Homo sapiens: one gene and its partners. The protein of the gene in region 2 purifies or fractionates together with the protein of the main gene of each other region. This does not show direct contact. Each region holds a gene or a part of one and is shown on either strand. Other genes may lie near its edges.

Evidence for each region.
Region 1: the proteins of POU2AF1 (region 2) and ATE1 purify together in Homo sapiens (affinity purification with mass spectrometry; 3 studies listed by BioGRID and IntAct, with this or other methods). This does not show direct contact.
Region 3: the proteins of POU2AF1 (region 2) and BRAF purify together in Homo sapiens (pull-down; one large-scale study listed by IntAct). This does not show direct contact.

The regions. Positions count from the first base shown.
Region 1 is NC_000010.11:121,917,977-121,921,630, reverse strand, and holds part of ATE1 (arginyl-tRNA--protein transferase 1), read left to right. Parts: intron 1-3,654. UniProt on the Homo sapiens protein: Involved in the post-translational conjugation of arginine to the N-terminal aspartate or glutamate of a protein. This arginylation is required for degradation of the protein via the ubiquitin pathway. Does not arginylate cysteine residues.
Region 2 is NC_000011.10:111,372,713-111,376,366, forward strand, and holds part of POU2AF1 (POU domain class 2-associating factor 1), read right to left. Parts: intron 1-3,654. UniProt on the Homo sapiens protein: Transcriptional coactivator that specifically associates with either POU2F1/OCT1 or POU2F2/OCT2. It boosts the POU2F1/OCT1 mediated promoter activity and to a lesser extent, that of POU2F2/OCT2. It recognizes the POU domains of POU2F1/OCT1 and POU2F2/OCT2.
Region 3 is NC_000007.14:140,774,804-140,778,457, forward strand, and holds part of BRAF (serine/threonine-protein kinase B-raf), read right to left. Parts: intron 3,273-3,654; coding exon 3,188-3,272; intron 2,286-3,187; coding exon 2,109-2,285; intron 1-2,108. UniProt on the Homo sapiens protein: Protein kinase involved in the transduction of mitogenic signals from the cell membrane to the nucleus. Phosphorylates MAP2K1, and thereby activates the MAP kinase signal transduction pathway. Phosphorylates PFKFB2.

The DNA of each region.
Region 1 (3,654 bases), on a different chromosome or scaffold from region 2:
GTGCCCAGGCAGCTGCAGTTCAGGCCTACTCAGGCTTCTCATGACATTCATTGTACTTCTCAGATAAAACAATACTTGAAGTCACTAGTTACAGAGAACAGGAATCTATGAACTCATTCCGTAAAACAAAGGAAAATTTATTTTTTCTTCTCTGCATGTTGAGTGCTGGGAGAATCTCCAGAGCACACTAGATAATATTATCAAGGCTTTTCCTGGGTCTGGGCCGTGCCTGTTGCTGCCTCTGGGACAAGTCGGCCTAATACAGGAAAGCTTATTTATCTTTCTTTTTAATTTTATTTTTCTTTAATTTCCCACCTCACTCACTTATAAGTGGGAGCTAAACCTTGGGTACTCAGACATAAAGATGGCAAAAGTAGAAGCTGGAGACTACTAGAGGAGGAGGGAGGGCGTGAGCTAAGGGTTGAAAAACCAACTTGGTATGACGATCAGTACCTGGGTGGTGGGATCATCCATATTGCAAACCTCAGCATCATGCAATATATCCAGGTCACCAGCCTGTACCTATACCCCCTGAATCTAAAATAAAAGTTGAAAAAAAAATTAATTGGAAGGAAGAGGGCTTAAATTTAATCTGCCACTTACACTTAGAGTCCAGTTTTTTTTTTTTTTTTTTAAAGAGACGGAGTCTCGCACTGTCGCCTGGGCTGGAGTGCAATGGCGCGATCTCGGCTCACTGCAACCTCTGCCTCCTGGGTTCAAGTGATTCTCCTGCCTCAGCCTCCCGAGTAGCTGGGATTACAGGTGCCTGCCACCACGCCCGGCTAATTTTTTGTATTTTTAGTAGAGATGGGGTTTCACTATGTTGGCCAGGCTGGTCTTGAACTCCTGACCTCATGATCCACCTGCCTCAGCCTCCCAAAGTGCTGATATTACAGGCGTGAGCCACTGCACCTGGCCCAGAGTCCAGTTTTCTTAAATGGGAAACTTAAACCAAAGTCTATTTTCCTACAAAGTCTTCGTTGGATTTTTTCATAATCTTTTGGATTTTCCATGTACCTTCTCACCTCACCCTAACATAGAAAAATCTTCTCTCTTATTCTGGTTATAAGGTCATCATCATCTTTTTCTTCTTTTTTCTTTTTTTTTTTGAGACAGGGTCTTGCTCAGGCTGGAATGCAGTAGCACAACCATGGCTCACTGCAGCCTGCCTGCCAGGCTCAAGTAATCCTCCCACCTCAGCCTCCCAAGTAGCTGGGACTGTAGGTACACACCACCAGGCCTGGCAAATTACATTTTTTTTTATAGAAAAGGGGTCTTGCCATGTTTCCTAGGCAGATCTCACCATGTTTCCTAGGCTGATCTCGCCATGTTTCCTAGGCTGATCTCCAACTTCTAGGCTCAAAGGAGCCTCCTGCCTCAGCCTCCCAAAGTGCTGGGATTATAGGTGTGAGCTACTACTGCACCTGAACCTTTTTTTTTGATAGAAAATGTGAAAAGTGCGTTAACATTTTGAAGCATGTATTTGCCCCCAATTTCAATGTGTATATATACTCATAAAATTAAAAGACAGTTTTACTTTAAGAAATGAAAAATTAAAAAATTAAACAGTTTTTTGTCCATTAGTTTTTTTGTTTGGTCCTCAAAGCTGTCTCCCTTGGTTGCTCTTAACTTGTTTTTGGGTTGCAAACCATTTTGAGAAGTCGATGAGAGCTGGCCTCCTGCCCAAAGGGATGTAGACAAAAATATGTAACATTTTGCATATCCTCCCCACCGAGACTGAGTCTTGCTGTGTCACCCAGGCTGGAGTGCAGTGGTGTGATCTCAGCTCACTGCAGTGTCCGCCTCCTGGGTTCTAGCAGTGCTCTTGCCTTAGCCACCTGAGTATCCGGGACTACAGATGCCCACCGCTAGGCCTGGTTAATTTTTGTGTTTTTAGTAGAGACGGGGTTTCACCATGTTGGCCGCGCTACTCTCGAACTCGTGATCTACCCACCTCAAAGTGCTGGGATTTCAGGCGTGAGCCACCATGCCCAGCACATTTTGCGTGTTAATTTTAGAATGATCGCAGACTCCCAAAGGTTCACTGATACTTGATTAGGAGCTTTTTTTTTGAGATGGAGTCTTGCTGTCGCCCAGGCTGGAGTGCAGTGGTGCTATCTCGGCTCACTGCAACCTCTGCCTCCCGTGTTCAAGCGATTCTCCTGCCTCAGCCTCCCGACTAGCTGGGATTACAGGCGTGCACCACCACACCTGGCTAATTTTTTTGATATTTTTAGTAGAGATGGGTTTCACCATGTTGGCCAAGCTGGTCTCGAACTCCTGACCTCAGGTGATCTGCCCGCTTCAGCCCCCCAAAGTGCTGGTGTATCTGGAGTTGGTTCCTTCTGGTGGGTTCTTGGTCTCGCTCACTTCAAGAATGAAGCCGCAGACCTTCGCAGTGAGTGTTACAGCTCTTAAATGTGACGCAGACCCAAAGAATGAGCAGCAGCAAGATTTATTGTGAAGTGTGAAAGAACAAACCTTCCACAGTGTGGAAGGGGACCCTAGTGGGTTGCCACTGCTGGGTAGGGTGGCCAGCTTTTATTCCCTTATTTGTCCCTGCCCATGTCCTGCTGATTGGTCCATTTTACAGAGTGCTGATTGGTCCATTTTATAGAGTGCTGATTGGTCCATTTTATAGAGTGCTGATTGGTCCATTTTACAAACCTCTAGCCACAGAGCACTGATTGGTGCGTTTTACAATCCTCTAGCTAGCTACAGAGCGCCGATTGGGGCGTTTTACAATCCTAGCTACAGAGAGCTGATTGGTGCATTTTACAATCCTCTTGTAAGAAAAGTTCTTCACGTCCCCCCCACCCCCGCCCCGACCCAGAAGTCCAGCTGGCCGTTGGATTGGCAGAGGATGAGAAAAATGGGGTCTGGTTTGCTGACACTGTGTCATTACACAAAGAATAGAATGACAGAGTATCCTGTGCTGTCCTCTTTCAGTTTTCGTGGTTATAAAGAGAAGGTATCTTCTAAGGCAGAAGTCATTTGTCTTCAATTAGCAATTTATTGGATTATGGACAGGATTCTATTCATAAGTTTGAAGTTGATTGGCTTAATCTGTGATCAGAAAAGGGTGATTTCGATTGGTTAAAGAAAAAAGAATCTAAATTGTATTTGGTGCCTGTTACATGGAAAGCACTATTCTAAGCATATTGCCTTTATAAAAGGGGATTCATTAACATTGCAAAATAAAGTAGTTATGTGATTTTTGCATTTTACGTGGCATCAAATGTTTCCTGAATTGCGTCTCTTTGTAATTCATTATACATCATCTTTTTTTTTTTTTTTTGAGACAGAATCTTGTTTAGTCTCCCAGGCTGGAGTGCAGTGGCGCGATCTCTGCTCACTGAAACCTCCGCCTCCCAGGTTCAAGTGATTCTTCTGCCTCAGCCTCCTGAGTAGCTGGGACTACAGGCGCATGCCACCATGCCCTGCTAATTTTTGTATTTTTAGTAGAGACGGGGTTTCACCATATTGGCCAGGTTGGTCTGGAACTCCTGACCTCATGATCCGCCTGCCTTGGCCTCCCAAAGTGCTGGGATTACAGGCGTTGAGCCACTGGGCCCAGCCACATCATCTTTTTATGGAGTCATTTTCCATATTTACTCTTCTGGTTATTTTTACCTTGTATATAACAGCAGTTGC
Region 2 (3,654 bases):
CAACATCCACCTTCCCTTCCTTTCTAACAGCCCCTGCATTATGGAGGGTGGCAATGTGCCCAGCTAAACAATTATGCTATTCTCCCTTGTAGATAGAAATGGCATCAGATGTCAGCAGAAGTTGTGTGTTGGGAGGGAGAAGGGGCAGCGATCAGGAGGCATGATCTTTTGCTATTCCTTTTTCTTCTTCTTGCTTGTCCGAAGATGTGATGCTCACAGATGTAATGGCTGGAGTTACAATGGCAACTATGAAAAAAATCTTGAGGACAAGAGCCACATGCCAAGGATGGCAGATTAGAAAGGAAAAAGGAGCCTGGGATGATGTTGGCACTGTGAGACTCCATAAGATCCTGAACACCCTACTGTGGACTTCTTTTATGTGAGAGAAAGGACACCACTGTCTTACTTAAATCTACGTTATTTCAGGTCTCTTCACCAGCAATCAAATGTAATCCAAACTGATCCAACAGAACATTTTGTATACTGCATAGCACCAAATAAGTTCTCCATTCCCCAGAGATGTTTGTTTATCACTGTTAAAAGGATTGAGCATTCTTCTGCTCTTAGCAATGCCCAAAGGTTTATTAGAAGCCATCCATTTCAACCTCCAGGTCAGCAGTTCTCAGCCTTCTCACCTGGGAGCCATTTGCAGCTCTCCTTCAATGCCCAAGACAATTTAATCAGAAGCTCTAGGTTGAGATCCAGGCATCTGTGTTTCTTAAATCTCCTCAGAGCATTCCAGTGTGTAGCCAAGGTATAAAAACACTGCCCTAAGCAGATAGAAGAATCCCATCTATTAAATTAAGGACTTCTGATTTTAAACTTTAATTTATTTTTTGTATAAACACTCAGGAAAACTCAGCAATTAGAGCTGGCAAAGAACCTCAATCAAGTTCAATCTCCAGGAAAATTAGCCAGGAAAAGGCAAGTTCCATTCCAGCACTAGAACATTTGAGACCCAAAGTGGTTAGGTGGCTTGCTTAAGGTCTCTCATCTAATTATCTGTAGAATGGAAAGTAAAACCCCTGGCTCCTGCCTACAAGTGCTTGTCCCCAGTATCACACAAGCGGGACAAGAGGGTTTCAGAGAAGGCCTCCCCATCCCAGGTAGGCTCACTTAGTTGTCAAGCAGTTCTACAAAAATGAGAAAACTAGAGTGTTATTAAGCATTTCATAAAGGTGAGAATTATGTTAATGTTCATAATCAATTAGCCAACTTTGGTTTGGTTGGCTCAGAATAAGAAATAGGTGGACATCTTCATTAAGTGGGAAGATAAACTACTTTAGAAAGATGTCAAAGGGGGAAAAAACACTTTGTAATGGGAAAGTTAAAAGCAAATATTTATAAGACTTCTTTATGAATTAAATGTCCACATATTTAATGAACAGCTGTAGGCAAACTTGATTTTTTTTTTTTTTTTTTTTGGTTCCTCATGAAAGAACAGAATCCCAAGTGTGAATTGGGAGAGAGCTTTCAAAACTTCTGAGTCAGTAACTTTGGGGACAAATCTGGCATTTTCTTTAGTAAATAAATATAAGGGGCAGGAAGTAAAATATCCATCAAGAACATCATCTGCTTTTTTACCAATTAAATCTGTGTATTTGGTTGATGTTTGTCCTTTATTTCACCTCCAGACAGTGCACGTGAATTTGTGTCTCTCTTTTGGATTCTACTTGCCCTTAACAGCAAGAACTGCTTAATTGGCCAGGCGTGGTGGTTCACACCTGTAATCCCAGCACTTTGGGAGGCCAAGGCAGGTGGATCACTCGAGGTCAGGAGTTCGAGACCAGCCTGGCCAACATAGTGAAACTCCATCTCCAATGAAAATGCAAAATTAGCTGGGCATTGTGGCATGTGCCTATAATCTCAGCTACACAGGAGGCTGAGGCAGGAGAATCACTTGAATTTGGAGGCAGAGGTTGCAGTGAGCTGATCTTGCACCACTACATTGCAGCCTGGGTGACAGAGCAAGACTCTATCTCAAAAAAAGAACTGCTGAATCAATGGAATCAACTTGGTAAGAAGTAAAGGTGCTCACTAGGCTTATTAAATAAGCAAAGGTTGTAACATAGAATAGAAATATTAGAGGTTGTCCAGAAACCTAAATTACCTCTCATTGTAAGTTGTGCTTAAATTTATGTAGGAGATAGGCTTCCAAAAATTATATGCATAGTACACATTTTACTTATCTTTAACTGCCTCCCAAACAATATTGGCTCTTTAGTGGAACCCTAGAGTACATCTGAAGAGCAGAGTTCTATGTTGATGAGAATTTTAAGTCCTTAATTTTTCTGTTTGCTAAATCTCTGCTCTGTTCAAGTTGTCTGAAAGCAAAGGCATATCCATGACATAATAATCTGATACGAATTATTTCCTGTTCCAAGGCCAAGTCCACAGGACACCAAGACAATCAGCCAGTCCAAAGAAAATCAGTCAAGCCTGCCTTTCATTAGCATGTAGATTGTTCCCTAATACAAACAACAACAATAAAAAGCAACTGTCCAATTTGTTCACTTTCTAACAAATGGAGTTCAGTTTATTATACACAGTTCTATCACTTTTAAGGAAGAAATTCAATCAAATCAGTTTGGGGCATTGTACAAATTATTTAATGAATTGGCTGCAAGTTTTATTTCCCATTGGTGTTGGCAATGTACAACCCCAGGATACTGAGTATCTTTTTTTTTTTTTTTTTTTTTTTTGAGGCGGAGTCTCGCTCTGTACCCCAGGCTGGAGTGCAGTGGCACGATCTCGGCTCACTGTAAGCTCCGCCTCCCGGGTTCATGCCATTCTCCTGCCTCAGCCTCCCGAGTAGCTGGGACTACAGGGGCCTGCCACCACAACCCCAGCTAATTTTTTTGTATTTTTAGTAGAGACGGGGTTTCACCATGTTAGCCAGGATGGTCTCGATCTCCTGACCTCGTGATCTGCCCGCCTTGGCCTCCCAAAGTGCTGGGATTACAGGCGCCCGCCACCGCACCCGGCCTGATACTGAGTATCTTAAGGAAATGAATGCCTGAAGAACCAAGCAAATCATCTCAGACCAGAGGTTGGCAATGTTTTTCTATTATAAGCCAGAGAGAAAATATTTTAGGCTTTGTATGCTGCACAGTCTCTGTCACAACTACTCAACTCTGCAAAAGCAGCCCTAGACAATATTCAAATGATAGACAGAGCTGTGTTCCAATAAAACTTTATTTACAAATGGAGTGGCAGGCCTGATTTGGCACAGAGGCCATAGTTTGCAGACCACTATTTTAGACCCTTGGAAAATTTTGCAATATCCTATCACCCAAGAATATTTAGACTGTGGCTTTTTAACTATTCTAATCAAAGTGTGGAAAAGAATATATGAATTTAACATAACACTGATCATTCAAGATGGGCCCACAGGTGGTTTCCAGGACGGAAGGTACTAACTCATCCCTACCACTACTTATCAGGAAACTTGCTATCATTTTACCTACATTCTCTACTTTAATTCTCACAAAAACCTTGGGAGGCAGACATTAGAATCCCCACTTCCCAGATAAGGAAATGAATGGAAATTTCCTTCTCACAAAGAAAGAACTAAGTTGCACAGGCAACTTTCAGACCTGTCTCCCTCCAAGGTTCCTGCTATTTCCACTACACTGTTACTAGCTGGGGAGGGAT
Region 3 (3,654 bases), on a different chromosome or scaffold from region 2:
AACATGCCCAGCCACATTTCTCAGCTGTGATGTGAGAAGGATTTGGCATCTCTTTCTTCTGAAAGGTAAATCTATCAATAATATGCAGTTGTGTGTAATCATTTTCATTTAACAGTTATGTACTGAGTATGCCAGGTCCCATTCTAGGCATTAGGCATAAAATAATGAAAAAAAGCCCCTGCTCTCATACAGCCTGCATTCTAGTGGGGATAAAAGACAAGAAACAAGTCAGATGGAGCTATGCGTTATAAAGAAAATCAAGCCTATGGGTATAGAGAGTGACAGAGTGACGTGGGGACATGTTAGTTATATAAGGTGAGCAAGGATTTCTATTAAAAGGGGACATATGAACCGAGACACAAGGATATTTGTGGCATGTGTATCCTAAAGAGAATATAACAAACATAAAGGTCCTAAAGAAGGAACACGCTTGGCCTGCTGAAGAAATTGCAAAGAGACCAGTGGTGTGGGAAGAGAATAAGCCTTTGTTTCTCACTGAATGTTCACAATCTTTGCCATGGTTTACTCTTCACAAGATTTTAATTCTTTTTTTTTTTTTTTGAGACGGAATTTTGCTCTTGTTGCCCAGGCTGGAGTGCAATGGTGTGATCTTGGCCCACTGCAACCTCTGCCTCCCGGGTTCAAGTGATTCTTCTGCCTTAGCCTCCCAAGTAGCTGGGATTACAGGCTTGTGCCTGGCTCATTTTGTATTTTTAGTAGAGACGGGGTTTCTCCATGTTGGTCAGGCTAGTCTTGAACTCCCGACCTCAGGTGATCCGCCTGCCTCGGCCTCCCATAGTTCTGGGATTACAAGTGTGAGCCACTGTGCCTGGCCAAGATTTTAATTCTTTAAAAGCCTTTAGATTCGAACAGATTCAGAGATTCTAACTTATCTGAAACGTTGAGATTGTTTCAAGTCTAGGGGTAAGTGGGGGTGTTACTGAATAAGGTAATAATTTGCTGTAATAAGTATTTTGGCCGAATATAGGCTTGTAAACAATCTAAATTATAGATATATTGCCTAGTTTTGAGAAAGAGAAGGTGGTATAGTTGGAAGATCTAAGAGCCAGATCTGGTTTAGAGTCTTGGCTCTATACTTACTTGCTAGGAGCAATACTCAGTTAGAGTTGTAGGTGTTAGTACATATATACCCTTTTACTCTTTTATTCTAATTTTGTAATGTAAAAGTAGCATAGTGGTTATGGGGAAAGAATACTGGATTGGGAGTCAGAAATCCTGAGTTAAACACCTTTGGTGCCACTTATTAAATGTGTGCCCTTAGACAAGGAACTTAAAAGCCTCAATTTCCTTATCTGTAAAAAGAAAAAAGATCTCCTTCATAACATTATAAAGATTAAATGACATAATAATCTATGTAAGTGAAAGCAATTTGTAAAAAACAAAATTCAGATCATATCTATTTTTAAACTTCTCACAGAGCTTTCAAATTCATATTTTACTGAGTTTATAATTTTCACCTAAGTGCTTTCAAAATTTGTTTAATTTTACCTTTTAATTTACCTATTCATTTGCACTTAAGAGTTGCAAAATTTAAAATTTATCCTTCAAAGTCAGTTCCCCATATTAGCTTATGGTAAACTTTATAAAATAACTCCTTAAATTGCATAGCAAAATTCAACAGATAGGAACTCACTCTGAAATCCTCAAAAAGGGTCAGAATGCAGATTTTTCACTTTAACTTTATTAACTGACCATTTTGCAACCAAAAATACGGGCACTCAGAGAAACTGATTTGAAAAAGTAACTAACAACCATTCTGTTTACTTGCACAACTGCTAACAACTTTTTAGCAGGTTTTTGCTGTTTCTATCTTCTGAACCTCTCTTGCTTAGCTCAATCACTGAGTGCTAAGCCTAAGTTTGCAGTCATGTATTTATTATCAAATACTTGATATATGTTCTGAAGGCTGCACTAGACAGAGACATTTATTTTTTAGTATCATATTATTTACCAGCCATTAGTTAGCATCCTTATGTTCCTGGACAGTAATTTAAAATGCAATCCAAAAGAATAGCAGCCAAAACCTTTAAAACATCCTCAATGGTCTTCAAAAATAATTTACAAGACATTTAACGAATGGAACTTACTCCATGCCCTGTGCAGTCTGTCGTGCAATATCTATAAGTTTGATCATCTCAAATTTGGTCTCAATGATATGGAGATGGTGATACAAGCTGGAGCCCTCACACCACTGGGTAACAATAGCCAGTTGTGGCTTTGTGGAATAGCCCATGAAGAGTAGGATATTCACATGTCGTGTTTTCCTGTACAAAGAAATGTGACAGTAAACATTAAATGTCGACAAACTTTAGCAATTCTTACAAAAGAGAACCAAAGTAGTCTGTCGGTAAAATGTTGTCAGAAAAAGCTTTTTTTTTTTTAAAAAAGGCAACAAAAGGATACATTTAGAAGAGACTGGCAATTGCCAAGTCTAACCTCCTACTTTATGCAGAGATATCTTTTTAAATATATCTGACAGGCAACTAGAGGTTGCTTAAATACCTTCAACTATGGGAAGTTCATCACTCAGTTGTAGCTGACTCTCATATCTTTATTTAAGTGGTTCTGGTATTATAAAGTTTCCAAGTGTTGAGACAAAATCATTTTCTTACAACTTTCACCTCTGGCTTGCTTCCCTGGTCTGCTCTCTGGAATAACTTTTTTTTCCGCACTCTGGAATAACTGTGCACTCTCTTGAACATAACAGCCTTCTGTGAACTAAATATCCTCAGTTCTGTTGATTATTTTCCCCCGTTACACCTCTAGAATCTTCCCTATTTAGGTGGTCCTCACTAGGCATATCCTAGTTTGTCAATGTTTCTAAAATTCCAGAGCCCAGGACTAAATACCACCTCTAAATGTATTCTGATAAGCTTAAAACTGGAGAGTATTCTTTTCATAAGTAGAACTATTACTTTATATTATCAGAATACTATACTTCCATTAATTCAGTCTAGGACTAAGTATTCTATCAGCCATACCATATAACATTGCATACTACTTAAAAGAATGTGGTTAAAGACAAAAATATACTCAGACATACTCTGTTTCTACAAATTTATTCATTTTGAGTAAATCTGTAAAGCTAATAGTTGCTACCACTGGGAACCAGGAGCTAATAAAAATAACTTCTTTCTCTGGAAAAGAGTAATTCACACAAGCTCACCTGAGTACTCCTACTTCATTTTTGAAGGCTTGTAACTGCTGAGGTGTAGGTGCTGTCACATTCAACATTTTCACTGCCACATCACCTAAAAGGCAATTGTTACTCCAAGTGTCATTTCAATTTTTAAAATTTAAAAGTATAAAACATTCTTGGGTGTTTTCACTAATTATCATAGCCCTAACTCCATACCATTATTAAATCACAAATAAATTATACTTTAGCTATCTAAACTCCATTTGTTTTCTAAGGCTAAAAATTCAACTAACAATGATATTCCTGTACTAGTATTTCAAAATATCAATCCAAAAAATAGCCAACCTTGTTTGTTCCATGGAAATTTGGTAAAATCAATTAAGTACCCATGGTATTTTCCAAATTATTTGACAATATTAAATTATACTTACTAGGCTTAATATTTATTTACTAACTGAAACTGCAAGTAATGTTGAAACTACAATTACCAGGCC